Linked DNA regions of Homo sapiens. The protein of the gene in region 2 interacts with the protein of the main gene of each other region in a pairwise test. Each region holds a gene or a part of one and is shown on either strand. Other genes may lie near its edges.

Region 1 (9,305 bases), on a different chromosome or scaffold from region 2:
ACCTTCTGACATTTTTATATGCGAGACTGCCACATACCTCTTGGCACATGGTGACCAAAGAATCTGAATTTGTTGAAACTTACTTTGTAACCCATATTCAGGGCAAAAGGTATACAAATATTTGGCTTACTAGATCTCAACAATCACATGATTCCAGTCTCCTGGGGGACAGGAGTGGTGACTCCTACGGTCACAGCTTAGGAAGAAATTGCTCTCCCACTTGCACTTGCATTTGTGAGAATCACTACTCACAACCCTGTTCTCATACCTACCGCCATCCTCCAGACCCTGAAAGGTAGACACAATTTTTACTGTTCCCATTTTCCAAGTGGGAAACACTCAATTGTCTGGGCAATTTCCTAAGACTCTAACCCTTCTGTAGCTGGGCTTGCACTAGTCATCTCCAGGACTCTTGCCACCAACACAGTCAGAGCCTCTTCCAAAATCAAATAGAAGTGGCTTCATCAGATTCAAGATGATCTATGAGTTGATAAAAGTTTCAGAAAAATACCGTTACAGAAAGAATGTCACAAGTTTGGGAACTATAAAGTATGAGGGAAAATGAAGGGAGAAAATCCACTAACAGAAAACGGGAGTATCTCTTTAACCCACACACATGCATCCCCCTTCTCCACGGGCATATGGCTGCAAAGCAAGACATCGCATTTCCAGTCTCCCTTGTGGCCACCATGTGACAAACTCCCTGCCGACGGACTGGCAAATAAAAGTGATGGAACAAATTCTAGTCACCTGCTTAAAAACACATCGCTTTCCCTGGACTTCTGCTCTTTCCCCACTGCTGGCTGGAAGTGGTGGCAACTAGAGAGGCCTTACAAGTGCAGAGCTGCATTGTGGGCCTGGGTCTCCGGGTCACAGGTAGGAGGGAGACAAACTCTAATGGTCTTTAAGCTACTTCATTGTTGGTATTAGAGAAAATAGGGAAGTAAGGCGGGGAGGGAGAGAGAACAGAAAAGATAAACACTCCATTACTCCATTAACAAGCCATCTGAGTCTGTCAGATAGAAACCTACTTCGTTATACAAGGAAGGGATGACAGCATAATCAGCTTTAGTAATGGGGGTTTGCCATTCACTTAATGAGAAGTGAAAATATTTAACTCAGTATATAAACATTTTTTTTTGGCAAAAAGCAAACAAAGTAATGTTTTTGAATATATAAAGAACAAGGTCTTGGTAACAAATGAAAAATATTAAGACAAACTGCCAACAACTCGCTGGATCATAAGAGAACAAGAACATTAAAAATTCCTTAGGTGCTATTTTTAAACAGCCGGGAACACTGCCTTAAATTTATTAGCTATTATTTTATAAAATAATAGAAAATAATGGTGTATAATAGTATATAGTATATAAAAAATAAGCCATGTAGCTTTTTCAGGAGGAAACATGGATGGTAACTTATTAAAAGCCCAGGATTACAGATTTCATCTAATCACATTAGTAAAAGCATGTCCACAAAGATAAAGACCAAAGACTAATGATAGATAATAATGGCTAGAGCTGCAGGGAGGGCCTTAATGAGAAGAATGCGGAGAAGTGATGGGTATGGTTGGCTTAAGTAACTTAATATAATAGACCAAATAAGTATTAATGAAGACAAAACCAGCTGACTTTCCACCTTTTACAGGTTAATGAACTCTGCAGCTTTCTGTGTATCATAGATCATAACACAAAACCCAAGTGAAGCTTGTGAAGAGAGAGAATACAGATTTGAAACTACTGAGGCCAGCATGTAGTGGGTCATGCCTTTAATCCTAGCACTTTAGGAGACCAAGGCGGGAGGATCACTTGAGGCCAGGAGGTCGAGACCAGCCTGGGCAACAAAGTGAGAGTCTGCCTCTACAAAAAATAAAAATTAAAAAAAAAAAAAAAATTAGCCTGGCTATTCAGGAGGCTGAGGTGGGAGGATTGCTTAAGCCCAGGAGTTCAAGGCTGCAGTGAGATGTGATCATGCCATTGCACTCCAACCTGGGTAACAAACAATGTGAACTCAAATCTTTAAACAAAAAAAAAAAAAAAAAAAAAGGAGAGAGAGAGAGAGAACGAAAGAAAGAGAGAAAGGGAAAGAGAAAGGGAAAAGGAAGAGGAGATTGGGCCTTCCTAGAAAAAGGAATATTTTGCCTTCCAATGAATCACCAGAAAAAAGTAGAGCTTTAATCTTTGACCTTGAATCACAATAGTATCATAACAAAAGAACAAATCTTGATGAAGTAATTTTACTTTCCTAAAGAAAACTGTCATTAGTAAACCTTCAATTACTCACAATTCCTAGTCTTGAGCTCCCAGTAACTCAAGCTTGTGAAGGATTAGGTTCTAATGCAATGGGAGCCTACCACCAAATATATTTATAAAATAAGCAGTGCAATTCAAAACTTCCTCTACAAATGTATAATCTTTGCTTATAAAACCCACATTGATGATCCCAAAGCTTTAATAAAAAACAATAAAGAAAGAAAAGGAAAACCACTTATTGGTACTAAAGCCTTTACTGTAATAAACCAAATATATTTACAATTTATACAAATGTTTAACCTTCAACAAAAATACAAAAAAACATTTCACAAGATGCAAAACCAGGAAACAAGTTCATTGGAGACACCACTGCTCTACAAAGGACGGAAAGTGAGGTGAACTGCAAGGAACAGAAAGGTAATCTCACACTTGGGCAAGGCGTGATCCCCAGATCACCCAGAAAGAAAGAATGGGCTGTCATGTGAGTCGGCAGATTCCGTTCCTCAATCCTACAACCCATGGCCCCTCTGTCCGCTTGGCCTTGGTGCTCCATTTGGTCTATGTAGACAGGTGACTTTCTGCTGATGGACTTGTCGCCTCCTCTTTGTAGACTCAAAGTAGTTTTCTGTCAAGGTTTGGAAACAGGTGTTTGTAATTTTTTTTCTCTTTTAAAGTTACAACTTTTCTATTTCTATAAATTCGAAACATTTTGGCCCAATTCAACTATAAACGTTAAACCACATAATGTTTTCAGTAGATGACTTCATAGACTGTAGCCTTCTTGTCCCCCGAGCCAGTGACTATGTACTTATCATCCACAGAGATGTCACAGCTAAGCACTGACGAGGACTCTTTGGACTGGAAGAGAAAACAATGGACATGTGTTTAATGTGGAACAACGGTACTCAGAGGCCCTGCTCCCTCGGAGGCACCTTCACTCCTGGCTTCAGAGGCGACACTGTGGTCAAACTGTGGATCTAGGTGAGGAGTACTTACTCACCTGGAATATGCTGGCTCCATAGGGGGTCCGCCAAGCATTGAGGAGGTTATCTTTTCCAGTACTCACAAACCATTTACCTAGAATTAGCAAAGGAATATCTAGTTTTCACAAGGTTAAAATTCCTACTATACAATTAGCAACTTGGACTTAATCAAACTAAGAACATTTTTAATATATGAACTATCATGCCCTAAGGACTGGTCCATGATATGAACAGAGGTTTTAATCTGGGCTCCTCAGTGATTTATCAGTGATCTTGGGTATAATCTAAGAGGTATCAGCCTCCTTAGTCACTGGATACAGGACTAGTAGCATCATATCCAACACACGGTAACCCTCAAATATAGAAATCAATGAAGAATGTGTTCTATTTTAGTCAGTCTCCTCATGATAAAATGGGATTAAAGATTCCCATCTTTAATGGGAATTAAAGGATTAAACATCCAACTTAAGTAAAATGCCAGTCACATCATATAGCATGAAGAAAAATGCTCAATAAGTGATAGGCACTCATCCACCCATCCATCCATCCATCCATCCATCCATCCATCCATCTATGCATACTGTGAACAGATATCTGCCCATCTGCAGCACACAAGAAGGGTCACCACATGAACTTCTTCCCTCTTCATCCTCACTGTAGAGTAGAGTGTAACTAAGTGTCTGCGTATACCTAAATATCGACTTCTCTAACCCTGGATTCCTCATCATGGCCAGCTCATAATGACTTCCACTGCCCCTGCTCCATTCTTCAATAAATTCCCGCCCACCCCTCTTCAGAGTAGAAACTCATTGTCGTCTCCCAACCCCTCCAAAACAAACTTGTGTCCAAACCGTGTATTAGGCAATCACATTGCCTGCTGACTTTTCTCAAATTAGCAAAACAGACTGAAACAGACATTGCTGTGCTCTGAAGGGCATATTAAAACAATAGAATTATTGCATCCAGCTGCTCGGAGAACATTTTTTCCAGATTATGATCTCTACCATATTTTTTTAAGAAGCATTTTCCATTTGGGCCATCAACGGCCTCCAGTTTCCTTTCGGCTGAACTCACCACAGTAAGCAAATTTCAGGGACAGCACGCAGCTCTCATGCAGGTGCAGCTGGTACTTGTCAGGCTTGTTCACGTGCAGCACCTCCACATTGCTGCTCTCCATGCCCACTGCCAGCCACTCCCCGGTGGGGCAGTACCCCAGGGAGAAGATCTACAAGGAGCAAGACAGGCTCACTCATTATTCCGCCTGATACACTTAGGAAGGGAAGACGCAATGTGAAAAGTGGGGAAATAGCAAGAATGGGGGGAAGTAATCAGCCAAGTCCAGACTGTGGGGAGGTCCACAGGGCAAGTGATCTAACGCAGATGAACCAAGTGTCAAAACCTTTAGGAAACTGGAAACATTTGAACCCCTCTGTCTTTTGGGATAAAATTAAGAAATGATTCCTAATAATAATGGCATTCATCTGTACATTTTAAAGGAGGCTTTACCTTTTAGAGACACTAACTGAAATACGATCATATATCACCTATCAAGGGGGATACATTCTGAGAAATGTGTCGTTAGGTGACTTTTTTTTTTTTTTTTTTGAGACGGAGTCTTGCTCTGTCGCCCAGGCTGGAGTGAAGCGGCGTTATCTCGGCTCACTGCAAGCTCCGCCTCTTGGGTTCACGCCATTCTCCTGCCTCAGCCTCCCAAGTAGCTGGGACTACAGGCGCCCACCACCACGCCCGGCTAATTTTTTGTATTTTTAGTAAAGACGGGGTTTCACCGTGCCAGCCAGGATGGTCTCGATCTCCTGACTTTGTGATCCACCCGCCTCGGCCTCCCAAAGTGCTGGGATTACAGGCGTGAGCCTCCGTGCCTGGCCTTGTTAGGTGACTTTATTGTGTGAACTTCAGAGAGTGCACTTACACACACCTAGAGAGTGGAGCCTATCGCTTGTAGGCTACAACCCTGCACAGCATGTTACTGTACTGAATACTGTAGGCAACTGTAGCATAACGGGAAGTATTTGTACATCCAGATACATCTAAACATTGAAAAGGTACAGTAAAAATATAGTATTATAATCTTAAGGGACCACTGTCACATATGCGGTCTGTCCTTGGCTAAAAGGTTATATGGTGCATGGCTGTGCTTATGGATACAATGATATGCTGCTAGAGTTTATTTTAAAATAATCCAGTGTCTGGGGGTGGGAACGAGAGTTATCATATGGCCAAATAACTTCAAGCTGAGCGATGGGCATGTGGCATTTATTGTACAATTCTCTGTGCTTTCATAAATGCTTGGACATTTGCTGTACTCATATGTATTTGAGAATTTCTCTAAGAAGTTTTAAAAAAAGGCAGAACAAAAATTGTATCCTGCTTATGTTGGGAAAGAGTGAAAACAGCAAGACTCTAAGAAACTCAACAAAATGTTAACAGGAATATGAAATTTAGAAGTATATATGCTTGTTTTCTGTTTCTGTCCTAGTTTTCTGAGTAGAATTATTTTTATTACAAAACAAGGTAAAAAATAAATGCCAAGTCATGATCGAAAGAACAATTCTACCACCAGAAAGCATTTAAAATGGCAAACACTGTTTTTTCCAAAACAAGTCTACATTCAGACATTGGACATCAAAATACTTTTCACAATCTACAAAGTTGCCATTTATACATTATTTCAAAAGTCTGCAAATCTAGTCAGCCACCAGTTCATTTTTTAAAGGATGAGGAATAAAATGGGTATCACTGAGGTATCTGTGCATTTTTTTGAGCTCTCTGGTGCGGGGTAAATAAATGAACTTTCAGAGGAGCTGTGACTTTTCTCTACTCTTAGTGACATTCTGCAGATTTCTCAAGTTCTATTTATTTAGGAATCAAAAAATCATCTCCTACTCCTGCATTAGATGGTGAGAATATGTGCCACAGATCAAACACTGCTGAAGGAAAACTATACATTCTTCAATGTACAAATCCCTTAAACAAACTCATATGTAAATATAACAGAGAACACACCTTAACCTACAGGATTCTAAAAACCACTCTAGTTTTGGGGAAGGTAGGGGGAGGGTCGTGAAGGAGGAGGTGGTGGTCATTGTTTTTAAATTAGTTATCTCAAATTCAGCCCTGATCTGTTTGTCCAGCCACTACCATCCTAGGGTAAAGGAGGGAGGGTTGTGAGGAGGAAGACACACCCCAGCCACCTCCCAGACTCCAGGGCAGGCGGAAGCCACTCAGTCACCTGGGAGGTGAAGTCGTGCTGCTGCAGCTGCCGCCCCTCGCGCAGGTCCCAGGACCTGACTGTGTTGTCCAAACCACCCGTCCAGAGCTTGGTGCCATCATTAGAAATGTCAATACAGCTGGCTCCGTCTGTGTGGCCCTGGAATTGCCTGATAAAACAAACCAGATTGAATAATGATTTCCTGCCAGAGCTCAAGGTAAACACTGTTGTGTTGTTAGTTTTGGACCGTGTGTGTGTGTGTGTGTGTGTGTGTGTGTGTGTGTGTGATCCCGCCAGTGTCTGCTGATGTGCAAGATCAAACTAACCTTCCCCTGAGGAGGAGGGGAAACAGCACCTGCGATTGTCTTTCCCTGTTTTCCACGATCCAAGTGCTAAAGAAATGGAATGCCACTGCAGGTCACTACCCAGAACTTAAATATGCTACTCTGACAAAACCGTCTGGAAGGTAAAATTCTTTCCAGGTCTGGAAAAGTGTTTAATTGTTAAATAGAAAATAAAAGACAAACACACAAAATCCCGATTGTATTCCTTATGGGAAGATAAAGGTCTGTTCTTTAATCGTGCAGGCCTGAGTCCGTGAGAGAAAGAAATGGGGACGTTACAAGCACAGGGTGTACAGAAGCATTCCTGTTTCCATGAGTGAATCAACACAGCAATGCCCTACGTGCCAACAGAGCATGAGCTCATGTATTTACTCAACCTTGCTTTCTGTGTTAGAAAGAGCCCTGCATTAGGAAATCTGGACTCCCAGAGACAAAGGGTCACGCATGCCGGCCTCCTGACCTCAGAGGCATTGGGCAGAGACACAGGTAATTGCTGAGGCAGACCCACGGGCACCTCAGCAAGACTCTGCCTCCAAGCGGAGCACAAGGTTGTTCTTTAAAGAACCTTGTGCTTCATTCAAAAATCGCCATCAGAAACGATCAGCCAACAGGGATCTGCTGAGCACAGATGCTGTGCAAGGCAACTAGCAGAGCTGCTGAGGGGAGGTCAGTGTAAGCCCCAGCAGGGACGGTGACTGGTGGACTCAGTTCTGCATGCTGAGAGGAAGGTGGTGGGGGAGGCAGCCAGAAAAGGCGAGCAAAGTCTAGACCCACCCTCAGAAGCAGGCGGGATCCAGTAAAGAACTGCGTGGGAATTTCAACACTGAGAAGAAAGTTACCATGCTGCTTCTTCCTCCAGGATCCCCACACCTTATCATTCCTGTAGAGCTCCAAACTTTTAACCTGAGCTTGGATTTTAAAGAGTGCAAGGGAAGGAAAAAGCACCACTACTGCCCTAAATTCTAAGCCAAGACGTGAACCATCACTTTTAAAATCTTCTCTCTGCAAGCCATCCCCAACTTCTGCACTTTAGGATCCAGGTTGAGTCCTCTCTCCTGCGGCCGTGCAGCTGGACCTCCAATGTTTCCGCTTGCTTCCCAGACATCCCCACAGAACACCCAGGCCTGGAGCAGTCCCTGCTTCACTTGGTGAAAGTGTTGCTTTCCTTCCCTTCAAACAGCTCTGGAAATCCAGTGACCCTCTGACTTCTTTTGACCTTTCTAACTCATGAAACGCTGTTCCTCCTTGACTGAAAACACCTTCCTCTGCTGACATACAGTACCTGGCAGCTGCTCCCCCATCCCTCTGCCCTCTCTCCGTCCATATACTATACTCCAGCATTACTCTCAGGCACATCCTATGACTGTTCAGAACGTGCTGGGTTACAGTGGATACAAAGACATTCAATAGGCTTTACATGGCCCTATTACATGCAGCAGCCACTAGCCACCTGTGAGTGGTCCAGAGAAAGATTTGTAAGACGCTACCCCATTCTATCCAACAGGTATTTACTCCCCAGGAGCCGGCACGGAGCAAGGGTTCAGAGTACAGACGAGAGCAGAATGCCTGGGCCTCAACTTGGCTCCACCACATCTGACTGTGTGACCTGAAGCCAGTAACTTACCCTCTCTGAGCCTCAGGCACTTCCTCTATAAAATGGGGCAAATAGCAGGACAGACGTTATGAGAACTAAGTGGAGGAATATTTGAAAAGTGCTTAGAATTGATATTTTGAAAGTGCTACTTATGGAGTTTTAAAAAAAGAAAAAAACAAGTAACTTTTGCTAGGATAAAAGGTGGAGAGGGCGTTCGGCCCTGGCTCCATCATTCCATTTTGCTCACCTACACTACCCAGCAAACAGAAGAGGAAAGTAACTGCCGCACTGTCACCCACACGCAGGGACCGGGCCCGGCTCAATGACACTTCATGGATTTCTACAGCGGAGGTTTGAAGAGAGTGAGCTGTCATGATGACTTCTGGAGCCCGTCCCTTCTCTGTGCAGCATGAGAGGGGACTTACCAAACAAGCCACAGACCCCAAACTGCACCATCCGCAGGGACGGCTTCCCAGCAAAGATGAAACAAGAGTAAAACATGTACTCATTTTACCTTTCATGTTTCATTCATGCTTACTTTAAAAAGACTTTTTGAGAACAGCTCTGGTGTGAGCACTGACTTCTGAAGGGAGCATTTGGCGGGGGAGCTGAGGAGAGACACATGGGTACCAGAACTGCAGCTGCTGCTAAGGTGACAGGGCTGATGCCAGAAGGCCAGGCAGAGCCCTGCGGGCTCCTGGGTGGAACCACCCCTGGGCAGGTCTATTTCATTATTGAGATACTTTAAAATCATTTTGTAGGCAAAATTCACAGAATCTCCTCTTCTCATGTCCCTTTGTTGATTTTCTGTTATCTTTTATCAGTTGGCTCTTGTCTGCACCAAGTTCTAGCCAAAGCCCAAAACATCTAGTATCAAGGGCCTTTTGTGCTGCCGTGTAATCC
Region 2 (10,967 bases):
CAGTGGAGAGCAGAGTCCCTGAGCAGGTGAGCAGGGATGGGGGCCCATGCCCATGTCGGAAGCGGGCGCCACACTGCTTCATGATGGAAGGCAGAACGCCTGGGCCAGGGTGCAGGCAGGTGTCACAGAGAATGTCCTTCATGACCACATCCTAGTTCCCAGAACCTGCGAATATGCTACTTTACATGGCAAAAGGGAGTTTGCAAATGTGATTAAGAATTAAGCTAAAGACCTTCATACAGGGAGATTATCCTGGATTCTCCAGGGGGCTGGTGTCATCACAAGGATCTTTAAAAGTAGAAGTAAGGAGGAGACGTGACCAAGGAAGAAGGGTCAGAGAGACGCAATGCTTCCGAGGAACTCTGAGGATGGAGGAAGGGACCATCCTCCAAGGAATGTGGGTGGCCCCTGAATGAAGAGGCAGGAGAAGGCACACAGCCCTGCCTGCCAACACCTTGATCTTAGCCCAGTGAATCCTGACAGACTTCTAACCCGTGGAACTGCAAGACAATAATCGTGTGTTTGAAGCCACCAAGAGTGTGGTCGTTGGTTTTGGCAGCCATAGAAAAGTAATACAGTGGGTCAGGGATCCGGGTGGGAAGGAGACAGCCCTCAGAGAAGGGATCCGGGTGGGAAGGAGACAGCCCTTAGAGAAGGGATCCGGGTGGGAAGGAGACAGCCCTCAGAGAAGGGCTTGTGGGGAGCCTGGGGGTGCTGGGAGAGGAGCTGGTGTGAAACAACCAGCTGGCTGGGAAGCTGGTGGCCCCAGGCTGCACCGCAGGCAAGAGCAGCTCTCAGCCCCAGGAGGCCAACAGTGGTCACTGGTGTGGGAGCCAGTTACATTTCCAAAAGAAGCTGCACTTGAGGATTACTGTGAAGCTGACTTTAGGGCTGGAGGGGCACAGGGCCAGAGTTCTGGGTTAGTGGCTTCTGACTCTGGTCCTAGCAACGCTTTTACTCCAGGTCAGCCTCCTGCACCTTGCCTCCTGGGCTTCCCCTTGACCCCCTCCTAGGGCATCTGGGAAGGTGTGATGAGTGGACTTGAGAGGTGAAAGTTGTTCCTTTGAAGCAGTCCATGGCTGATGCTCCCTGAATGGCATGAGAGCTCATTGGCATGGCCTCTGGGTGCTACTGGAAACCAGGGCTTTCAGGATGGCCCGTTATCCATCCGTGTCCTGGTGGGTACATCCTACATCAGCCTGTCTGAGGACATTAAAATAATCCCAGGAATGATATTTCCATTGCTCAAGACTTCTTCTGTGGCACTGGCTCCCCCACTGCCCCAATAGCTCGGCTCCAGATGATAAAGCTGCATCTGGTTATAGCCCAATGGCTTCTATGATTGAATTGAGGTGAGCCAGAGTGAACCTCAAACTTTGAAACACCCCTGGTGGCCAGGACCTGCTTGGGGGCTTTTGTAAAGGGGCTGCTGGGAAAGGTGTTCTTAAGGCAAAAGCACATGTCCAGAGAGGAGACCCCGACGTCAATCCTAAGTTGTCACACCTTGGCCCTAGCCTGGGGACTGCCAACCCACAGTGAGAAGCTGCTGCTTTGGGGTCCTGGAGCAGGAGGAGGGGGCTAGGCTAACTGTGGCGGTGACTTCAGCCGGCTGACCACGTGCTATCTGCAGGTCTGGCCGAGCCCAAGAGGGCAGGCTCCCGCACCCCAGCTGCCCATCCTGCCACCCTCCATCCCTGAGGGTTCTGACCTCCTGGACCCAGTTTGACCTAACGCTCAAGCCCCCTGGGGCCTTGGCGCTTTCATTTCAGGCCACAAACTGGGTGGGTCTCCTTGACCCTGAAGTCAATGGCAGCAGTGGGGAAGTTCCTTCTTCAGTCAAGATAAGCAACAACCTCACACAAGTAGACTCATGTCTATGTCATGCTCGTGGGTCCTAAAACAGGTCTTTAAAAGATACTTTCAAACCAAATAGGTAGCAATTAGGCATTATTTTATTATTCCTGAAGCTCATGAACAAGAAAATGGCACAGAGACAGGTCATCTCCCTATTGCTGAGTTACCCTGGAGACAAGCCTCATGCAAACAAACTCCTTCTCCAGGACACACAATGCCCAAGAACAGGCTGGGTCTGAGGACCTGCCTAGCATGGGGGGCAGAAGCACTGCCTGCTGCAGAGACAGCCACGGAGTGCATCCCCACCACCATCACACTGCTCACTCTGCTGAGAAAGGGTGAGGTTTTAAAGGACATTCACCAGCCTCAGATGCAGGGGAAATGTGCTTAGTTTAGCATTTACATATCTTGACACAGTAATGACACATCACTCAACAATACTTCAAGGGTAACTAACTCCAAAATTCTTTATTTAGTAAAATTGTCACATTTGATGTCAATGGAATACACAAACTCAAGTGTGCTACAAACAAGATGTACAGAGCATCACAGCTCTGGGCAGTGCAGCTCAGTGCACCTGCCTCTCATCTCCCCGCTGAAGTGGCAAGTTCAAGCTTTTGTTTAGCCCAGGGCTGCCTGGAACACTAGTGCCCAGCACCATTTCTGCCACCTCTGCCCCCAGAGCCCGCACAGGGCTGGTGAAGCCTGGGTGGGTGAACCTGGGAGAGCGCTGGCAGCTCTACAAAATTCTTCCTCCTGCCCGTAGCTCCCTCCCTCCACCCACTCCAGAGCTGCAGGGTCCCTAAAAGTTTCTTAAGAAACGGGGCTGGGGCCTGACTGGGCTGGTTACCAGGGGCTGCCCTGCAAGCCATCCATCAGAGGAGGGAGGGAAGACCTGGGAGACTTCCAGGGCCCTACCCCACCACATCTGAACCCCTGGGAGGAGGGAGGAGATCCAGGGAGGGCCGGGCCCACCCCCGCAGGACTCTGGCTGGCATTGGTCACCAAGGCCTCCAGACACTCCGGGCAATTTGGGCTGTGGTCAGGCTGCCCAGGGCTGCGGGCACCAAGTCGGGCCCCTCAGCAGGAGCCTGACTCAGTTCAGCCTCAGGGGCCTCCTCCAGGTCGGAGCACAGGTCGTCCCCAGGACCCGGGGGGCTGGGTATTGGGGATCCCGGAGCGCCCCCCGCAGGCCAGCCACTCCGTCCAGGGGCTCTAGGTGGCCCCGCCAGGGCGTCCCCCAGCAGATCCTGGAAGCTGCTGCCCTCACGCAGCGGCATGGACTCGAGCAGATGGTTCAGGAGCTCGGCAGCGACGGTAGCGTCGATGGCCTGGCACGTGGACACGAACGTGTGCACCTCGTGCATGCACTGGATGTAGCCGGCAGCGAAGCGCTCGCTCGCTTCCGCCTGCAGCTGCTCGCGCTCTGGGCCCGAGGGTGGGAGGGAGAGAGCCGCGTCCCGCGCGGTGAGCGGCGACTGCGTGGCCCAGCCCACCCGGCCCGCGGGGACGCGGCTCACCCAGGAGACGCGGGGGCGCACCCTGCTCCGGTGGGAGCCCTCGCCGCCGACAGGACAGGGGCGCCGGGAGGGAAGTCCTCCGTCTGGCAGGGGTTACAGGCGCCCGCGGCCGGCGCCCCCGCCCGCCCCGCCGCCACTCACCGCGCGCCCGGCCCCGCAGCACACCCTGGACCCGCCGCACCGTCAGCTCCAGCACTTCGGCGTTCTCCAGCTTGGCCTGCACCTGCGCGGGCGGGAAGGGCGGTGAGCCGGCAGCGCGCTCCCGGACCCGCCCGCCCGCCCCGCAGCCCCACGGCGCCTGCCCGGCCGCCGCACCTCGGCGCCCGCCAGCAGCAGCCGCAGCTCCTGCAGGCTCTCGTTGATCCGCGCGCGCCGCTTCTTCTCCACCAGGGGCTTCCGGGCCTGCGGGGAGCGGGGCACTGAATCCCAGCCCCGCACGGCCTCCCGCCCGCTTGCTCGCCCATGGCCCCGGCCCGCACCTTGCGGTCCCCTCGCGTCTCCCAGCCGTCCTCATCCTCACGGCCCACACGGTCCCGGCCAGGCGCCGCGGGTGGCGCCATGCCCGCTCCGCCGGGGACGCGGCAGGGGCTAGGAGCAGCGGGGACGGGGAGCGGCGGGGACCGGAGTGCCGGCGCCCTCCGCTGCCCCGCGGCCGCCCAGCAGCAGCCCAGCCGTCCGCGCTCCTCGCGGCTTCCGGCCCGCCGCGGTCCCGCCCCTTTTATAGCCGCTTATTTGCATCTCAATGCGCCGATTGGCCGCGCGGGCCCGGGGCGGCCGACCGCGAGGCGCGCTGCAGCCAATCGGGGCAGCGCGCTTTGTCCGGCCCAGCGGCTCTGGCGGTCGGGCAGCTGGCTGAGCTAGGCGGGGCCCCCAGCCCGGCCTTCCCTAGACCCCCGCGGGGGCGGCACCGGGGCGGCGACCCCGGGTAGCTGCGGCCCTGCCCGCGCTTGTTTCTCTCCGTCTGCTGCTCTAGGACCACTGATCTGCCGCGCGTGCGAGCAGGCGTCCACCCGTCCGTCCGTCCGTCCGTCCACTCATTCATTCACCCATTAATTCATTCATTTCCCTCCTTCGCCGATGGCGCCTCCAGAGTTGAGCGCTGGGGCCACTGGCCCCAGGAGATGCGTCCCTGGTGTGCAGAGCCACAGTCAAGTCCGCGGTCTCTGGACCTAGAGGGGTTTCAGGTCCCGGCTGGGGTGGCTGCCAAGCCCCGGGGAGGCAGGGTCCATTGGGCAGCGGTGGCGGGGCGGCCCCTGAGTTTCTTCCGGACTCGTCCAGACGCCGGGCCGGACCCCCGACGCCGCCCTCCGCCAGCACTGGAGTCCTAGTGGGGCGGGGTCCCGGGTGCTCCCGCCCGCGCCGCTCTCCCCCTGGGCTCTGCGGGTCACCAGCCCCGCCCCCCTCTGAGCTCCCCCATCTCCCTCTAGTCCCCTTTGGCCCCCGGGGCCCCCTCCCTCCCTTCCACTGCCCCCCGCCCGCCTCCCTCCTCCCCTCCTCGTCCTCCGCGCCCCGCCTCCCAGGCCCGCCGAAGCTGCCGTCTGGTCCTGTAACTTGATGCCCGTGACAGTTGGCAGCTGCGGCCGCTTCGGCGGAGAAAAGCGAGAAAAGCGGCGGCCGCGCCAAGAGCGACAGGTGTTGGCCGCGCCTTTGTCTCGCACCCTTTGTCCGGCGGGCAGGCGGCGGGCGCTTGTCCCGGCCAGACGCCCGCGACTCCCCCATCGCGGCGGGCCGCCCATCTGCTGGGTTCCTCTTGGCCGCGGGCGGGGTGCGTGGGCGGTGGGGCCGCGCCCTCGGGCAGCGTCCTGGGGACCCCTGCCCGGCTCCTGCCCCGGCGTCAGTCCAGACGCTGTGTGGAGGAGCCGGAACGGGAGACGCCTTCTCGGACCCCAGCCGGCCGACTACCAGCCTGCCCCGCACAGCACCTGCCTTCCTCAGTCCCCACTACTCACCCGGGCTGGGATCGTCAGGGTCTGTTCTGAGCCCCTCCAGGCTATAAGCGTCCCTGGACAAGGGCACAGTCTGACCTAGGACCCCCTGTCCACCTCCCCGCACCCCCAGCAGAGCCTGGCCTCACAGAAGCGCTGGTAGGTAGGGAAGGTGAGGGGTGGCCCTGGCAGGATGGGCTGGAAGGCCGCGTGGGAGGGGAACATCACGGGACCGCAGCAGCTGAGCGGAGCGGCAGGACTAGGCTGCAGACCGACCGCCCCACTGCCCCTAGAGAGGTCTGACAGGCCTCCCATGGCCCCTTTACTTGCGCCTCTCCACCAGAGGGACCCCTGCAGGCTTCCTGCTGGGTGAGTTTGGTGAGAGGTTTGAAAGCTCCCAAAGTCACCTCACTGACCTCTGTAATTACCTGGGACCCCCTCCCGCTGGCTCCCAACTGTCCCTGCTCTGGCTCTTGGTTGCTCTATGAGCAGGGTCCTGAGACTTCCCCCAGCCCAGCATCACTCACCTGGGTGTGAAACTACCGCTTTACTTCACACACTCCCCACCTGCCCAGTAGTGGGGCTGGCAGGGTGGGGCTGGAGTGGTGGATCCCAAGGAAGTGGATTATTAGCCTGTGACTTTACTCTCCTTCACCACTTAGACATCACCCCAGGGAAGGAGAACCTCCACTCCCCCAAGTGGCTACAATGACATTTCCACTACTTCGAGAAACTGTGATAGGGAAAAATAAACTCACTGATATTTCCTGTACTCCCAAGTTTGCAAACTGATTTACACTCCTCTCATTATCCAAACGAACAAGGCCAAGTAGATGTTTTAGGATGCTCTCATCCTAAAACATCTGCTTTATGTTAGGCAATTTATATTGCAACAGGATGATCAGGGCCCCAAAAGAGGACTTTGGGTAAAGCCTGACTGAACACTTGATTGGATGGGGAACTGGATTTGAGGGGCAAGGAGGACATGATAAAGGCAAATGGTGCAAGCAAAAAAAAAGAAAGAAAAGCAACTAGGAACTCTAGGAAAAACAAAAAGCTTCCCAAGAAATGTAATCTTAGCACATTACTTGGCTCAGGAGACAATTTTCACAGTCACAACAATGTAACAGTGTTCATAGGGTTTTAACATTTAGAATTAATCTATACAGAAGGCAAGGAAGGATTGTTTATGGTTATGGGACATGATATAAAGTTGACCTTGTAAAAACAAAAGGACAGGTGATAGGAGTTATGAGAGAGGAGGCTAAAGGGAGGACTAGGGACCTCAAAAGCCTTGTCTGACAGTGGAGTGGGTGGAGGGTTGAGGAATGCTGTCTAGAGTTGAGGGAGGGAGAAATTAAGCACTGGGATATGCCTCGGTGTGACCAAGGATCCTACAGGGAAAAGAGCTTAAGTAGAGAAGGCTGTACATCAGCAAAATCCTTCTTGGTTGGACTGGAAGTTGCCCAAGGTCCCCTCTGCAAGGTCAGCTTCAATTCCCTTTAGCGGTGCACTGGCCAGCTGGCATGGCCTTTTTGTCCCAGAAGCCTGGCCTATCTTGAGGTCACCAAGCCCTCCCTCCCTCCTTCACAGCAGCCTCCCCTAGCCAACACTTCCTGCCATTTGTCCCTTGGGCCAGTCCTGCCTTCAAAGTTTGCCTGAGTATGGACTTCCTGAGCATTTGAGTCCTTTGATCCCCCTAGAGCCAGGAACAGAGGCCAGCAGAGGCTGGGCAGGGTGGTGGTTGCTGCGGGGATACCAGTTAGCAGTGGGGGTGGCAGGCCATAAATCCCTGGGGGAACAAAGGCAGCTGCGGCCTGTAGACTGTCCAGGCCCCTTGTGGGCAATCTGCCCAGGAGACTCAGAGAATCTCCGTTTGGTTTGGAAATAAATCCCTTGGGGTTATATGGTAAATAAAAATACAATTAAGAGTCTTCCAAAAGCACTCAGGTTCAGTGAAACAACCATATCTGGCCATTTAGAGCAGTTTGCAGAGGCCTCTGTGCTCGCTAGGGAGGACTTTGCCTTTTATCCCATCAGCACTTGGCGTTAGGCAGCCAGGCTAGCAGGCAGAGGAGAGCCCCTCCCTTCTGCTCAGGGAGCTTCTCAGAGGCTGGGCATTGGGTTCAGGATCCATTCAGCTCTCTGCTCCCACCCCCAGGGTCATGGTTTGAAGAGTGGGAGGGATGGGGAGCAACTCTTCGGGCTTCCACAGTTTTGGCCTCACAAGGCTTCATTCATCACTGTGAAAGAAGGGCTGGGGTCAGGGGACTATGCCGCCCTGCCCATATCATTCGCAATGGAGACATGTGACCTTCCTGGTGGAGCCTCCTGACCGCCCCACCTTTAGCCCTACCTAGCCCGATGACCAGAAGACAGGCAGCCAGCCTGGAAAGGCCAGGTAACCCAGGGCAGGGATGCAGGGAAGACAGAGGTGCGTGGAGGCAGAGCTGGGGGCACTCTGGGGCTGAGCCAGACAGCTGCACCCCTCCAACTAAAAGTGAAAAGACTGTGGGGCATGACACGATTAGGTTTGCATTACGTGAGTTCACTCCTGCAGCCTGAAGGAGGGTGTGTGTGTGACACGCACAGGAAGAAAGGGAGCCAGCAAGAAGCAAACGCTATAAGGGAGCTGACCGCCAGGAGGCCTTTGGGATGTAAGATTCTTTAATGCAGAATTCCTGGAGTTCTTTAAAAAAATTTTTTTTAAATAATCTTTGCTCTCTATTCAGGTTTTCCTTTGTGCTATGTGAAAAATACATACAAGTAAAAATAAAAATATACTTGCTTTATTTACCAATTTTCTAAAAGGCAAACAGGTCATAAAAAGACACAAGCAGTCAAACAAATCTATTGCACTGGGTAAAGAAAGTTTGGTTTGCACACAAACAAACCACTTGTCCAGCAAGGCTCAACAAATCATCACAGAAACTCTGAGAGCTTATTTACATATCTCTTCGGGAATATATTAAAAAGAAGGCTCAGTTTAAAATAGAGAAAAACTGTTTAACACCTGTGTAAGCACACACACTAAAGAAAACATGACTTGATGCTTGGCATCACGTAAACAAATTCACAAGATGATCCTATTAAGTCAACTGCTTGGCACGCGCTGAAGCTACAGTTAACAATCAGTGAGCACATATTAAATGATAAAATAATGCTGATGGTAAACATTCATAACAGCAGAGTAAGATTTTGGCAGTTTTGTGTTTCGGTAACATAACTGTAACCTTAGATGAACACCTATCCCTTCATGATCTGACTTTAGAGGCAAGGAGTTTGTAACATCTAATGGCCATAAGAATGCAGACTGCTACCTTATCATAGGCATAGGCAGCTGATGTTACTTTGTAAATTAACGAAAAATTAAAGTGTTCTTGTGTTTATGAAGAATAGGTTTAATAGTCAGGCATAAGATGGTTTTACGATGAAAACCTAGTGGATTACAAAGAGATTTCACCTCCATCAAAAAACAGAAAACCCTGGTCCCAGTTGGGCGTGGTGGCTCACGCCTGTAATCCCAGCACTTTGGGAGGCCGAGGTGGGTGGATCGCTTGAGGTCAGGAGTTCGAGACCAGCCTGGCCAACATGGTGAAACCCTGTCTCTACTAAAAATACAAAAAATTAGCTGGGTGTGGTGGCAGTCGCCTGTGGTCCCAGCTACTCAGGAGGCTGAGGCAGGAGAATCGCTTGAACCTGGGAGGCAGAGGTTGCAGTGAGCCAAGATGGCGCCACTGCACTCCAGCCTGGGCAAAAAGAAACTCCATCTAAAAAAAAAAAAAAAAAAAAAAAAAAAAGAAAACCCTGGTCCCTTTTAAGCCTCATAGTCTTGGTCCAATTTTAAGTCAACTGTTCTTCAGTGATAACTTTGAATTTCCACCAGGGACCAATATTAAATTTTCTGAACCATCTTTGGAATATACAATGCAACATGAGGTTTTGTAAAAAGCCGGGCAGACTGGCCTCACTTTTCCCCAAGTGTCCAAATGACCTAAAAGTGCTGGGGACACTGGCAGAGGCCTGAAGCTGCTCCGAGAGAGGTCGGGCTCATGAAAAGAATGAGGGCTGTGCACCCAACCCAGGGTGCAGTGGGAGAGGTGAGCTCACTGCACCCCTGAAAATACAGATGCAGTCGCAAGCTGTCAGACTGAGTGGCAGTGGCTGCTCTCGGCCAGGAGATGTGATGTGGGCTTGGCTGGGTGGAAGCAGATGTCTGGGTGGTTCCAACGGAAGAAAACCAAACAGGACTGGGTCTCACATGTGTTGGTCACAGCCTGGTTTGCAAAGGGAAGTCACCATAAAGAGATGACTGATGACATATTTTAATCTCCATATTGGCCATCATGGTCTGAAAAGGAGACAAGAATAATGCAGAAATATACAGAGGGTCTGTCTGCGTGTGCATTCATCCGATGGAGTTGGCCACACAAACCACTAGGCTTCTTTAGTCCAGAGCAAATGTTTCAACTTTGTTCACTACAAACAAAACCTATGTCAGACTGAAATATTGACCACACCAGAAGCCAAAGCTGTTGGTTTGCCAAACAACGCTTCACACCATTTAATGTGAAACGTTTTGAAATAAAACTAGGAGAGGCTGCTATCTCCATTTGGTATGTATAAAAAAACACTCTACCTTGACTAAATGATAATTCAGATAAAAAGCAGTCCCCAAGAGAGGACAAAATTTGATCTGATCCAAACACCCTGGGAAAGCTCTGGAAGCCAGAGTCCCCAGCTGGTGCAGCAGACAGAGGTCTCGTCACAGTCACAGGACTTCTGGGAGCACTGAGGCAACTTCCCTGACACTAAGAGGCGCTTAGTCTTTCTCAAGTTAAATAACAACTAAAATCTCTTCCCCATCCCACAAAACTCCACATATATATTTTATATATAAAAACATATTTCTTTCCGAACTCTCCCCACTCTCCACAGTTTTAAGTCGCCCCTTCAGAAAACTATGTTGTTTTTTTTTCTAAAACAAAAAAAGCAACATGAGCATATGTGTCCATTTCAGTGGAAACAGCCATGAAGATCTTTCATCTCTTCCAAGCACCACCTGGTGTACCTCGCTGGCTGCCGGGCTGAGGTGGGGCAGGGGTTACGTCTGCTCTTCGATCCTGTGATTCAAGGGGGATCCATTTTCGTCTTCTTTGGTGTCCGACACTTCGCTGAGTCCCAGAGAAGGAATATCTTCCTCATATGGTATGCAAATATTACCTTTTTCCTTGTTTTCACAGTAAACACATTCCTTAAAAGAAAAAAAAAGAGAAATCAGTAACAAACTTGAGATCTGAGTTGTTACAAAAGTCATTCAAATTGGCCGGGCGCGGTGGCTCACGCCTGTAATCCCAGCACTTTGGGAGGCCGAGGCGGGCAGATCACGACGTCAGGAGATCGAGACCTTCCTGGCTAACACGGTGAAATCCCATCTCTACTAATAATACAAAAAATTAGCTGGGCGTGGTGGCAGGCACCTGTAGTCCCAGCTACTTGGGAGGCTGAGGCAGAAGAATCGCTTGAACCCTGGAGGCAGAGCTTGCAGTGAGCGGAGATCACGCTACTGTGCTCCAGCCTGGGCGACAGAGTGAGACTCTGTCTCAAAAGATAAAAAGTCATTCAAACTGAGTAAGGTGCAGGTGACCAGGTGTCAGCCAGGAGGTGG
Region 3 (11,350 bases), on a different chromosome or scaffold from region 2:
GCAGGGAGGGTTAGTGATAAGGTTAAAATGGTTGGCAGATGCTAGAATTTCAGAAGAAAAATTACTATAGATTCGTATTTTTTCTCTCCATGCTTGATAATTAACTGCTTATTAAAAACCACTTTCCACTTTACATCTAGATTTAAATGACACATTTTACTAAATGATTCAGAAACAAGACAGGAACAAGGAAAAAATTTAAAGCTACATTTTAACTGCATTTAGTCTTACAGTAAGAAAACAGCTCAATAGTATCATCATGATCATGTAAAAGTTTTTAAAACCTCTTCTATTAAAGAGGGAATTCTGAAAAGGAAAAATGTGCATTGTTCCTTTCCTTTGAGAAATCAAAGTACTTTCACATTTATCCTCATTTTATCCCACATACTGAGAGAAGGTTATAGGTTACGGAAACAGGGAAACAGAAAAATTAGGTGATTTCCTTCATTCTAAGATGCATGTTTTTGACCCTGACTTTTTAAAAAATCAAAGTGGATCTCACATTACTGATTTTAAAGTCATCTTTTCTAGGGGAGGGCCACACTGAGTGTATCTTACAACTATGGGTACACTCTGCATTAAAGAAATATGGTAAAGGATTTTGCCCAAATTAGTAAGCAAGAAGGTGGCAGAACTGGGCAACAACAACAACAACAACGACACCACTTCTGTTAAGTTATTAATATATACAAACAGGAATATAGTAGCCTGTTTGGCTCCTCTCTTATTAGTTAAATATACAGGGCCTACCTTCTACTACGCTCTTCCTGAAAGAAATACAGAGCCATACAAAACATCTTTTCTGACTTCAAGAAGTATATAATAGGTACCTACATAATAGAGGTGCCTATACAAGTATCTATACAACAGAAAAGTCTGGGATCAATATCAGAAGAATGACACAAAGTGAGAAACATAAATTCAGAAACGGAGTAGTCACTTTCAGCCAGGATACTGTGAAAATCTTCACACAATAAGAGCTTAATATATGTTGACTGTGAAGGCATTACGGAAAACTCAGATAAGACTTTGAAGGACTGATGGATCTTCCACAGGGAGAGATTGTGCCGGAAAGCACTCTAAGAATAGAGACTAGCAGTGCCCAGGAAAAAAACACCAAAATCAGTCACTGGGACTCAATGGCAGAAGCAAGGTGGGGAATAGCGGGAAAGAAGGCGAGAAATGTAGATAGGGGCTAAAATATAGAGTTCACTGAAGGTCAAACTAAAAATTGTGAGCAAACAGGAGTAGCCTTTTGACATTCATGCTTCAGGATGACTAAACTGACAGTAAACTACACTGGCTGAACTGGAGTAGGGAGAAGTACTGCTGCAGACTATAACAGTGTCAAGAATTCTGTTCCTGAACTAGGTCGTATCAGCAGCAATGACAAGAAAGAAGTGTCTTCCCTTTGAATTGCGTGGGGACTGCTTTTGGATAAGAGCAAATTCCAAGAGAACAGAGCATTAACTTGTTAGGATTTGTAGCCCCACTACTCCATGCACAATACTTTATTTATCCACAGTACAGCCTCAAATAAAAAACTGAAAAAAGGCAACCAGCAAAGTCTGATTTGAATTTTCACCACTAATGAGATAGCCAAATGCCACAGTCACAAGCTTCTATTTCTCAAACCCACTCATATTACAGTTAATGTGGCATTCCTCTCCAATCTTGTTTTTACAGCCTAAATGAAATTTTGCCAGAAGACTTTAGAATTCTCCTTCTTCCAAATACACCACAGCATTTTTCTTTTAAAGTTTACAAATCCAATTTCCACACACACACACACGCACGCACGCATCAGAAAACCTTGCTGAAAACTCATGTATCTAGCAGAAATTTTTTCTTTCAGGCAGCAATAAATATGCTTTTTTTTTTTTTTTTTTTTTTTTTTTGCAAACTCCACCTTCCGGGCTCAAGTGATCCTCCCGCCTCAGCCTCCCAAGTGGCTGGGATTACAGGCGCCTGCCACGACGCCCGGCTAACTTTTGTACTTTTAGTAGAGACGGGGTTTCACCACGTTGGCCAAGCAGGTCTCGAACTCCTGATCTCAGGTGATCCCCCACCTCGGCCTCCGAAAGTGCTGGGATTACAGGTGTGAGCCACCGCGTCCGGCCAACATGCTTCTTTAGTTACTTATAGAACCTGCCACATCATTAGTTCAACTACAAACTGCTGCTTACATGACCGAAGTTGTGCAAAGGGTCCAAAGTTGTGCAAGAGTAACCACTGAAATCAGACTCTGGTATATTAATAGTTGCAACATCTAAACAATCTTTATGTTTATTATTAGATTCAAAGTAATGCCAAATCACAGGTATTAAAAATATCTACGAAGAGTCTGTTTACTTTTCTGTGAAATATACTAGGACGTCATTTTAAGTGAGAATAACTGAATTTCTTTCAGCTCATGGACATGAGCTCACCTGAAAATTAGCAGTTGTGACACCGGACTTGACATATCTAAAACATCAGCGTCCTCAACATACACATACCTAAGTACACACCCAGAGCACTGAACGACTTTACATTACTATATAACCCCAGTTCACACGTGGCAAAAGTCCACAGAACTCGTTCATGCTTTCCTAACCCCGAAAGGGATTCTCCAGCCGTCAAGTAATGAGATGTGACTTATTCTGACGTGAGAGTTGAAGGTGTTAAAAAAGCATATTTTATATATATGTATATATATAAAATACATATTTTAAAGGTTTCCTTTTCTCTTTCTCGGCTGCCTGTCCCACGCCAAAAAGCGCCTTGCCCAGGCCTTGATAGATGCGTGCTGGTGGAGGAAGGTTGGACTGGTCAGGAACCAAGACCCGGGCCCCAACACCTTCTGCTCCCCTAGGTTTCCCTCCTTCTTTTTCCTGGGGCCGCGAAGAGACCTAACGCAAGGGGCCCTGGGGGTGGGGTGCAGTCATGTGAGTCGGGCCCCGGCGGCCCTGCGCTAGGCCTCCCCTCCTGTCACACACTTCCTGAATCGGGCGTCGCAAACGGCTGCCACGGCCCTCAGCTGCAAGACTGGCCGGGTCGGGGGCCGCAGACCGGGCCTGGCCAGGCCGCGGCCGCTCGCAGTGCCCACGTCACCAGCTCCAGCACTGCGGAAATGGAGCGGCGCGGCCAGGAGGGAGGCGCCGGGTGGAGTCCGCGTCCCCGCCACCGCCAGACGCCGTTTGCCCCTCAGCCCGGGTCCGGAGGCCGCCGACACCCGCCCGGCCGCGCCCGGGGCCCTCACCTGTGTCGCCGATTATGATGTACTTGAAGAGATAGGCGTACGCCATGGCCGCGGCCGCTCAGTGCCAGGGCACACGGCTCCTCCTCCCGCTGCTGCTCCTCCTCCGCGCCCCAACCCCGGTGCCGCTCAGCCTCGAAACGCCAGGCGCCGCCCGCCGCCGCCGCTGCTGCTGTCAGCCGCCGGGAGTGAGGGGCTGTGAGGAAGCCGGACGAACTGACACCCGCAGAGCCGAGGGAGACAGCGCCCGACCGAGCCCAGCCGAACAATAACAGCCGCCGCGGCGCCTCCGCCCCGCCTCCGCGCCGACCCGGAAGTTCTGCGGCCGCCGGCGCCGCCGGAGGAAAGGGGAGGAGCCCCGCACGCTGGCCCAGCCCTGCACGCTGGCCGCGCCCCGCCAGCCGGAGCCCCGCCCCGCCCCGCCCCGCGCCTGCCTTGCCCGGTCCGCCCTGTCTTCCAGCAGGGCGGGGCCCGGCTCCGGTTGTTCCGCCACGTTTGAGCGGGCGAGCCCGGCGGCCGGGAGACGCCAGGGAACGGGGCTGGTGGGGGTACAAAGGCTCGGTTCCGTCGCCTTCAGCCCTGCGGTGGGGGCACGGGGCAAGTGAGGGGACGGCAGAGGCGGCGTTCGGTGTGAGGCTGCGCCCTGGGCTCCTGAAAATGTGTGTGAAAATGTGGGAGGCACACGGCGAGGGGGTGGGGGTGGCCTGGTATTTCTGTGTTTGGCATCGGGGCTTGAAGGTGAAAATGGCAGTATTTATAAATTGGAAACCGTAAATCTGGGACTGCAAAGTAAATCATGGTATGCACGCACAGTGGAGTACTACGTTGCTCTCACCTGAGGTCAGGAGTTCGAGACCAGCCTGGCCAACATGGCGAAACCGCGTCTCTACTAAAAATACATTAGCCGGGCGTGGTGGTGCTCGCCTGTAATCCCAGCTACTCGGAGTCTAAGGCAGGAGAATCACTTGAACCTGGGAGGTGGAGGTTGTAGTGAGCCGAGATTGAACCACGGCACTCCAGACTGGGCGACAGAGCGGGACTCCGTCTCAAAATAATAATAGTAAATAAAAAATAAATAAAGTCTCTGAACCTGTCCTGGTTCTGAGGGCTGCTCTAAAAAAAAAAAAAAAAAAAAAGCCTGACTTAGGTTAAGCAAAACCGAGATGATCTGTTTATGTGTGTGTATATAACATGCACCATATGTAATATATGAATTGTATATAATTTTTATGTGTAACAAATAGTGGGAAAACATTTACATACCCATATATGCATAATCAATCTGAAAGGAAAGCTAACTGGTATTAAGAGAAAGGAGGGAATGGGATTGGGGGGAAAATGTACTTTTCCCTGAATTTTTTTGTGCAGTTTGACATTTTTTGCAGTGTTCATGAGTTACCTATTAGGAAATACTGTTAAAGGAAAAAACAAAATGACTGTGCATTCAAAGAATAGTTATTGAATACTATGTTTCATGTACCGCCAGGCACAGCAACTGGAGGCCCTGTATGTTCTATGTTCTGTTTTTCTACTTTGCTTTTTCAGTCATCCAGCCCAAAATGTCACCACTCTGTTCAAAAAGACCACAGGTTATGGAAGAGGAGGTGGAGAATAGGGTGTCAGGAAAGGTTACTTAGAGATTATGATTTCTGAGCCAGGAATATGAATTATGTATAGAGTTTGTCGAAAGAACAACAGTTTGGGGAGGGGAACCAAAGTTTATGGACAAGGAACAGAATGTGCAAAATTCCTGGATCTGTTCAGGGAATTTGAAGTTGCATAAGGAAGCTAATTGACTAACTCATATCCTCATAACCCATAACCTCATATTGAAGGAGAATCATTGCTGGGGAAAAGCGATTGGGATTTAGTGGCCCTCGTTCCTGTTGCCTAATACTCTTCTCTTTGGGGCCTCTCATTATGTAATTAGTACTGACACCATCATGCTGGGTTGCTAACATGCTTTGGATGGCCTTGCCAAATATGAACTCACAAGGTTTTTCTGGAATATTTGGAGGGGATTTTACTAAAGGGTCAGAGATGGCACGGAAGAATTTGACATGAAAATTTGACATGAAAAGCTACCTGGAATCGCAAAATTTGGTTCATTCACCTTTAGTTTGAGGAAGGGGAGGTCCCTGCCCAAGGCCTCCAGTTTTCAGATGTCATTTTGTCCCTCCCACTTGAGTGCCTTCACCCAAGTCTTCCTTGGTGATGGAGAAACTCAAGTCTTCACTCTCACAAGATAGAGGGATGTGGCCTTCCTTCACCAGCACAACTCTATTAGGATGTTATACAAATGCCTGGCATCCTAGGAGTCAGGAGTATTCCTACACTGTTAGAGGAGGAGAGTACCTGGAGAGGTCTCTTGTGCCAGGTTATGTAGGGCCTTGTATGTTATGTCACCATGCATTTAGAACTTTACTTAGTAGACAAAGGAAATTGTGACAGGAAATGGTCAGAACTGGGTATGTAACAAAAATCATAGAAATGGATATAAAGCTATAGAGGCAATGTGTTATAAGGAAAATAGGATACCTGGCTTCTGGTCTTGGCTCTACCTGTAACTGATCGGATGAATGTGAGGAATCGTTTGGCCTCTTAAAGCTTCAGAGCACAGGTTGCGATGGCTTGTGCCTGCGGTCCCAGCTACTTGGGAGGCTGAAGAGGGAGGATAGCTTGAGCCAAGCAGTTTGAGGCAGCAGTGAGCTAGGATGGTGCGACTGCACTCCAGCTTGGGCTATAGATTGAGACCTTGTGTCTTAATAAATAAAATAATTATTAAAATAAAAATAATTTAAAAAATTATGAGTGGTTCAGTGCACTTGTCTATTAAGTAAAGGAGTTAAGTGTTTCTTAAAAGGGCTATTCCAAGCATGACGTCTTTTAATTTTATGCTTAGCCAGCCTCCAAATCTAAAGCCATCTGTAAAGAAGGTAGTAATCCTCTCGTGAAAATGCAGGGGCCATAGATGTCAAATGCATATTGTTCTGATTGATTGATTGATTGATTGAGAGGAGGTCTTGCTCTGTCATCTAGGCTGGAGTACAGTGACCCAGTCATGGCTTACTGCTGTCTTGACTTCCTGGGCTCAGGTGATTGTCCTGCCTCAGCCTCCTGAGTAGCTGGGATCACAGGCACATGCCACCACGCCTATATCATTTATTATTATTATTATTATTTGGAGAGATGGAGACTCCCTCTGTTACTCAGGCTGGTCTTGAACTACTGGCCTCAAGCAATTCTCCCACCTTGAAGAACAGGATTTTCAAGTTCTTCTCTGGGCTTCAGTTTCCTTATTTGGAATATGTGGATAATAACTGCTTAACAAAGTCCATTTAGGATCAAATGAGATAATGTATGTGAAAATACTGTGTAAATTATGAAAAATGTATACCTAATACATAAAACTCTTTGCACTGCATAATTTTTGGAAATTACTTGAGGGGCTGAGTGCGGTGGCTCATGCATGTAATTCCAACACTTTGGGAGGCAAAGTCTGGAGGATCCCTTGAGCCTTGGAGTTCAAGAAGATCAGCATGGGTTACATGGTGAGATCCTGTCTCTACAGAAAATTAAAAAGAAAAAAAAGAAATTAACTTGAGGAACTAAAGGCCTAATCACTATATAAATTCATGGTTTAAAATTAAGTTTGTTCCTGGCTCTATTTTATGTCTCTACCTTTTTTCCTATGTATGATTCATAATATTTTGTTATATTTTCTATAAACCTATAATCTCTTAAATCTTCGAAAAAATACAGGGTATAAATAAAAATCACATAAACCTCATTTAAAACATTTTCTTTAGCCCATAAAAATCCAAACATATTTTTCAAGAAAAGTCCCCCAGACAAAATAACAGAAATAAACCTCTCTTCCATTAAATATAGTATACTTCCTGGAATTTTCCATTCAGTTTGATTTTCGGCTATTTTCAGTCTCTTAGGATGTGTTGTGGTAACTCTGTCTCTCAGCCTTACATCATATATGGTCTGAAGGTCATAACTGTGAAATTTCAAGATTGTAGCACTACATTCTTCAGTGTCTCCTAATCAAGTTCTCCATGACATTTTTGAGTACAATACTATATTAGAAGTTTGCATTTGCTTCTCCCAACTAAACTTTCATGTTTATATTTTCTTTGGTTTTAATTACTCTCAGGCTTTGGGAAGAGGGATAGGGTGGAGTGGAATGGGAGAAGGTGGTTGGGAATACTGTAATCTTGAGGTTTTTGCCTTGGTTTCCATGGTTCCTTAGCCACTCCTTCTGAAATGGTATGCAAAACTGATAATGATGTATATATTTGCACATGTACACTTTTATGGGAGAGATTCTTCCATGACCCAGAAATAATTAAGAACAATTGTGAAATGCCTTCCTTCAGCCATCTCCAAGTACCATAACAGAACTAATTTTCCAGCAAATACTTAAACTCAGTACCAGTTTGTTTGTTTGTTTGTTTTTTAGAAAAAGTCTCTCTCTGTCACCCAGGCTAGAGTGCAGTGGTGCGATTTCAGCTCACTGCAAGCTCCACCTCCTGAGTTCAAGCGATTCTCATGCCTCAGCCTCCCAAGTAGCTGGGACTGTAGGTGCACACCACCATACCCGACTAATTTTTGTATTTTTAGTAGAGATGGGGTTTTGCCATGTTGACCAGGCTGGTCTCAAACTCCTGGCCTCAAGTGATCCACCTGCCTTGGCCTCCCAAAGTGCTGGGATTACAGGTGTGAACCACCACACCGGAACTCAGTACCAGTTTTGGAAGAAGAAATAATTAGATTCAAATCCTGACTTTACCACTCAACATCAGTTGAGTGATCTTTGATAGATTACTAAATGCTCTAAGCCTTAGTTTCCCCTCTGAGATGACATATATAAAATGTCTAGCACTATGTCAAGCACACAGAGGACACTTCTTAAACATTGAGGTTGTTTCCCCCTTCCTTTCCTCTCCTCCTTGTCCTCCTCCACCTTCAACCTGTTAATAAGAACTGTAGCTGCAAAGGAAATATATCTCTCCCTCTGCCCCAACTCTCACAACTGGCAATAACAAAAAACAAAAAACCACAGGAGGCTGGGCGCAGTGGCTCATGTCTGTAATCCCAGCACCTTGGGAGGTCGGGGCAGGTGGATCACCTGAGGTCAGGAGTTTGAGACCAGCCTAGTCAACATGTCAAAATCCCATCTCTACTAAAAATACAAGAATTAGCTGGGCATGGTGGCACGCACCTGTAGTCCCAGCTACTTGGGAGGCTGAGGCAGAAGAATCACCTGAACTCGGGGGTAGTTGCAGTGAGCTGAGATTGTGCCACTGCACTCCAGCCTGGGCGACAGAATGAGACTCAGTCTCTAAAAACAAACAAACAAAAAAAACCATAGGAGTTAAATGAGCCCAACAAGGACCCTGCCTTAAAGGAGAGTTGTCTTGTGCTAAGTCATAAATAACTTTGGCCTGATGAAGGCTACAGGAGAGGAGCTCTATTATTTTAGAGAGTACAATTTTTTGGGGGTGAAATGAGGGTAGGTTTTGCAGAGGGAGAGTCTTTTAAGCTGGGTCTTCAAGGGCATTATCTTTTATAGCTATTGTCTTAGCGTAGTCATTCCAGGTGCTTCAACAACCCTCCTTATTGTACTTGGTTTTTCTCATCTACTTGATATGCCATTTCTAGTCTAGTTGGATAACATTCTTAGTAATATTTCTTGTTTTGCTTTTCCACTCATGACCTATTTCTGGTTAGCTTATTATTATCCAAATATTCATTGTTTCTGGTTCAATAATCTGGTTCCATGTTGAAGCCAGAAGTGACTGTTTTCTCTTTTCCATTCCGTTCTGCTCATCCTTCAGAAAGCTACTTGAAGAGTCAAAAATTAGTGACAGCAAATTCACATCCTCAGTCAAAGTGTGTGTAGGTGGGAGAAAAAAGTTTCTTTTATATGTAGGCTATTCTTTATACCAATGGACTGGTCATTAGTAATAGAAAGTACTCATATAAGTGTATGGAACAGAAACAATGAATATTGGGATAACAATAAGCCAATTTTATAAAATACTGCATTAAAAATATAACTATTTGGTCAGGCATGCTGTCTCACACCTGTAAACCCAGCACTTTGGGAGGCTGAGGTGAGAGAATCACTTAAGTCCAGGAATTCAAGACCAGCCTGGGCAAAATAGTGAGACCTTGTCTGCATAAAAAAAGTTTATTTTTGGGGGGGATGAGGTTTCTGTTGCTCAGGCTGAAGTGCAGTGGTGCAATCATGCTCACTGCAACCTCAGCCTCCTGGGCTCAAGTGATCCTCCCACCTCAGCCTCCTAAGTACGTGGGACAATAGGCACACACCACCACACCTGGCTAACTTTAAAAATATTATTTGTATAGCCGGGCACAGTGGCTCACGCCTGTTATAGCAGCACTTTGGGAGGCCGAGGAGGGTGGATCACTTGAGATCAGGAGTTCAAGACCAGCCTAGCCAACATGTTGAAACCCCATCTCTACTAAAAATGCAAAAATTAGCTGGGTGTGATGGCATGTGCCTGTAATCCCAGCTACTTGGGAGGCTGAGGCAGGAGAATCGCTTGAATCAGGAGATGGAGGTTGCAGTGAGTCGAGATGGCACCACTGCACTCCAGCCTCAGTGACAGGGCAAGGCTCTGTCTCAAAAATAATAATTATTTGTAGAGATGGGGTTTTGCTATGTTGCTCAGGCTAGTCTCAAACTCCTGAACTCAAGTGATCCTCCGACCTTGGCCTCCCAAAGTGCTGGGATTACAGATGTAAGCCACTCTGCCTGGCCTTAAAAATTATTTTTAACTATTTAAAAAAATTACTATATAAGCTGGGCACAGTGGCTCATACCTGCATTCCCAGCTACTAGGGAGGCTAAGGTGGGAGGATCCCTTGAGCCCAGGAGTTTGAGGCTGCAGTAAGCAATGATTGTGCCACTGCATTCCTGCTGCACTCCAGCCTGGGCAACAGAGTGAGACCCTATCTTAAAAAAAAACCACTATATAATAGATATTGAATTAATAATTCATATAGAACTTAAAAGTGAATTAAAAACAAGAATAATACTCTTAAATTAATTATTTTTTCTAAGTCCTAGAGATTTGCTTAGTGCATTCAACAGAGACAATGGTCAGGAGAAAGGCTCCATTTTGGATTCCAGAAAGTCTGAATTACAGTCTCTTCCTTGCCACTAACTAGCTGTCCTTGAGAAAGTCCACTTCAAACTTTCATCATCTGTTCAAAAGAGATAATAATTCTGGTTACTTACATAATAGCATTTCTAGCGATAGATGTGAAGACACTCTGAAAAGTACATTATTGCTAGGAGAGTATATATATACCAAGTTGCAGGTGGCTTATTTTCTACAAATGTATCCAAGTATATTAAGGGAACAATTCCTACACAACCAGGTAAAGTCGGTAGTAGTTTATCATCTACATTGTTGAATTTTTTTTTTTTTTTTTTTTGTCAGTGGAGACCAGATCTTGCAACGGTTTCAAACCCTACTCTTCATTTGTCTTTAATATGTCCTATGTTTTATGTTAAATAGTAGGTGTTCCTTGCTTTGGAAAATTTGGGATTGGAATGGGAATGGGATCATGAAAATATACTTCACATGGTGCTAAAGAGAGAACTACTTGTTACTCTTTTTTTATTTTTTGTTTGTTTGTTTGTTTTAGCTTTACTGCTTCTTGTGGAGCAGGGCTACCCCATGGGCAATGTACCCAGAGTAGCGGTACTTGTTACTCTTACAGATGTCTCAATTAATTTTAACCTCTATCCCTAATGGTGTTTAAATTTTGGTAAAGAAAAATTCATTTTTTCTTTATTTTCCAAGAAATGGTAAGCTATCTTTGTCCCTATGGGAGATGTGGACAGAGAAAACTTTCTGTCTCTGATGTCTTTTGTGTGAGACAAGATTTTAGGAAATAAATAAGTGGTGCAGGGAATTGTGAGATTACATTTCACCTCCTTTTCTGTCTCCTCTCTCTTTTATATAATCTTTATCTCTGCTTCTAACAATCTCCTTATCAGAATTTCTAACATATGTAATGATGAGAGAGAGAAAAACTGCCACCACAGGATCAAATTTCATTTCTAAT

Evidence for each region.
Region 1: the proteins of HES6 (region 2) and TLE1 interact in binary tests that used the Homo sapiens proteins (3 or more experiments, as listed by UniProt).
Region 3: the proteins of HES6 (region 2) and RAB2A interact in binary tests that used the Homo sapiens proteins (3 or more experiments, as listed by UniProt).

The regions. Positions count from the first base shown.
Region 1 is NC_000009.12:81,581,196-81,590,500, forward strand, and holds the end of TLE1 (transducin-like enhancer protein 1), read right to left. Parts: intron 8,916-9,305; exon of another isoform or gene 8,313-8,915; intron 6,682-8,312; exon of another isoform or gene 6,634-6,681; coding exon 6,486-6,633; exon of another isoform or gene 6,480-6,485; intron 4,461-6,479; coding exon 4,310-4,460; intron 3,330-4,309; coding exon 3,253-3,329; intron 3,111-3,252; coding exon 3,003-3,110; 3' UTR 2,488-3,002; downstream 1-2,487. UniProt on the Homo sapiens protein: Transcriptional corepressor that binds to a number of transcription factors. Inhibits NF-kappa-B-regulated gene expression. Inhibits the transcriptional activation mediated by FOXA2, and by CTNNB1 and TCF family members in Wnt signaling.
Region 2 is NC_000002.12:238,235,972-238,246,938, forward strand, and holds HES6 (transcription cofactor HES-6), read right to left. Parts: upstream 4,068-10,967; 5' UTR 3,935-4,067; coding exon 3,854-3,934; intron 3,777-3,853; coding exon 3,690-3,776; intron 3,598-3,689; coding exon 3,516-3,597; intron 3,281-3,515; coding exon 2,856-3,280; 3' UTR 2,296-2,855; downstream 1-2,295. Other genes in the region: PER2 (period circadian protein homolog 2), read right to left, coding at 10,404-10,553. UniProt on the Homo sapiens protein: Does not bind DNA itself but suppresses both HES1-mediated N box-dependent transcriptional repression and binding of HES1 to E box sequences.
Region 3 is NC_000008.11:60,509,145-60,520,494, reverse strand, and holds the start of RAB2A (ras-related protein Rab-2A), read right to left. Parts: upstream 3,509-11,350; 5' UTR 3,288-3,508; coding exon 3,242-3,287; intron 1-3,241.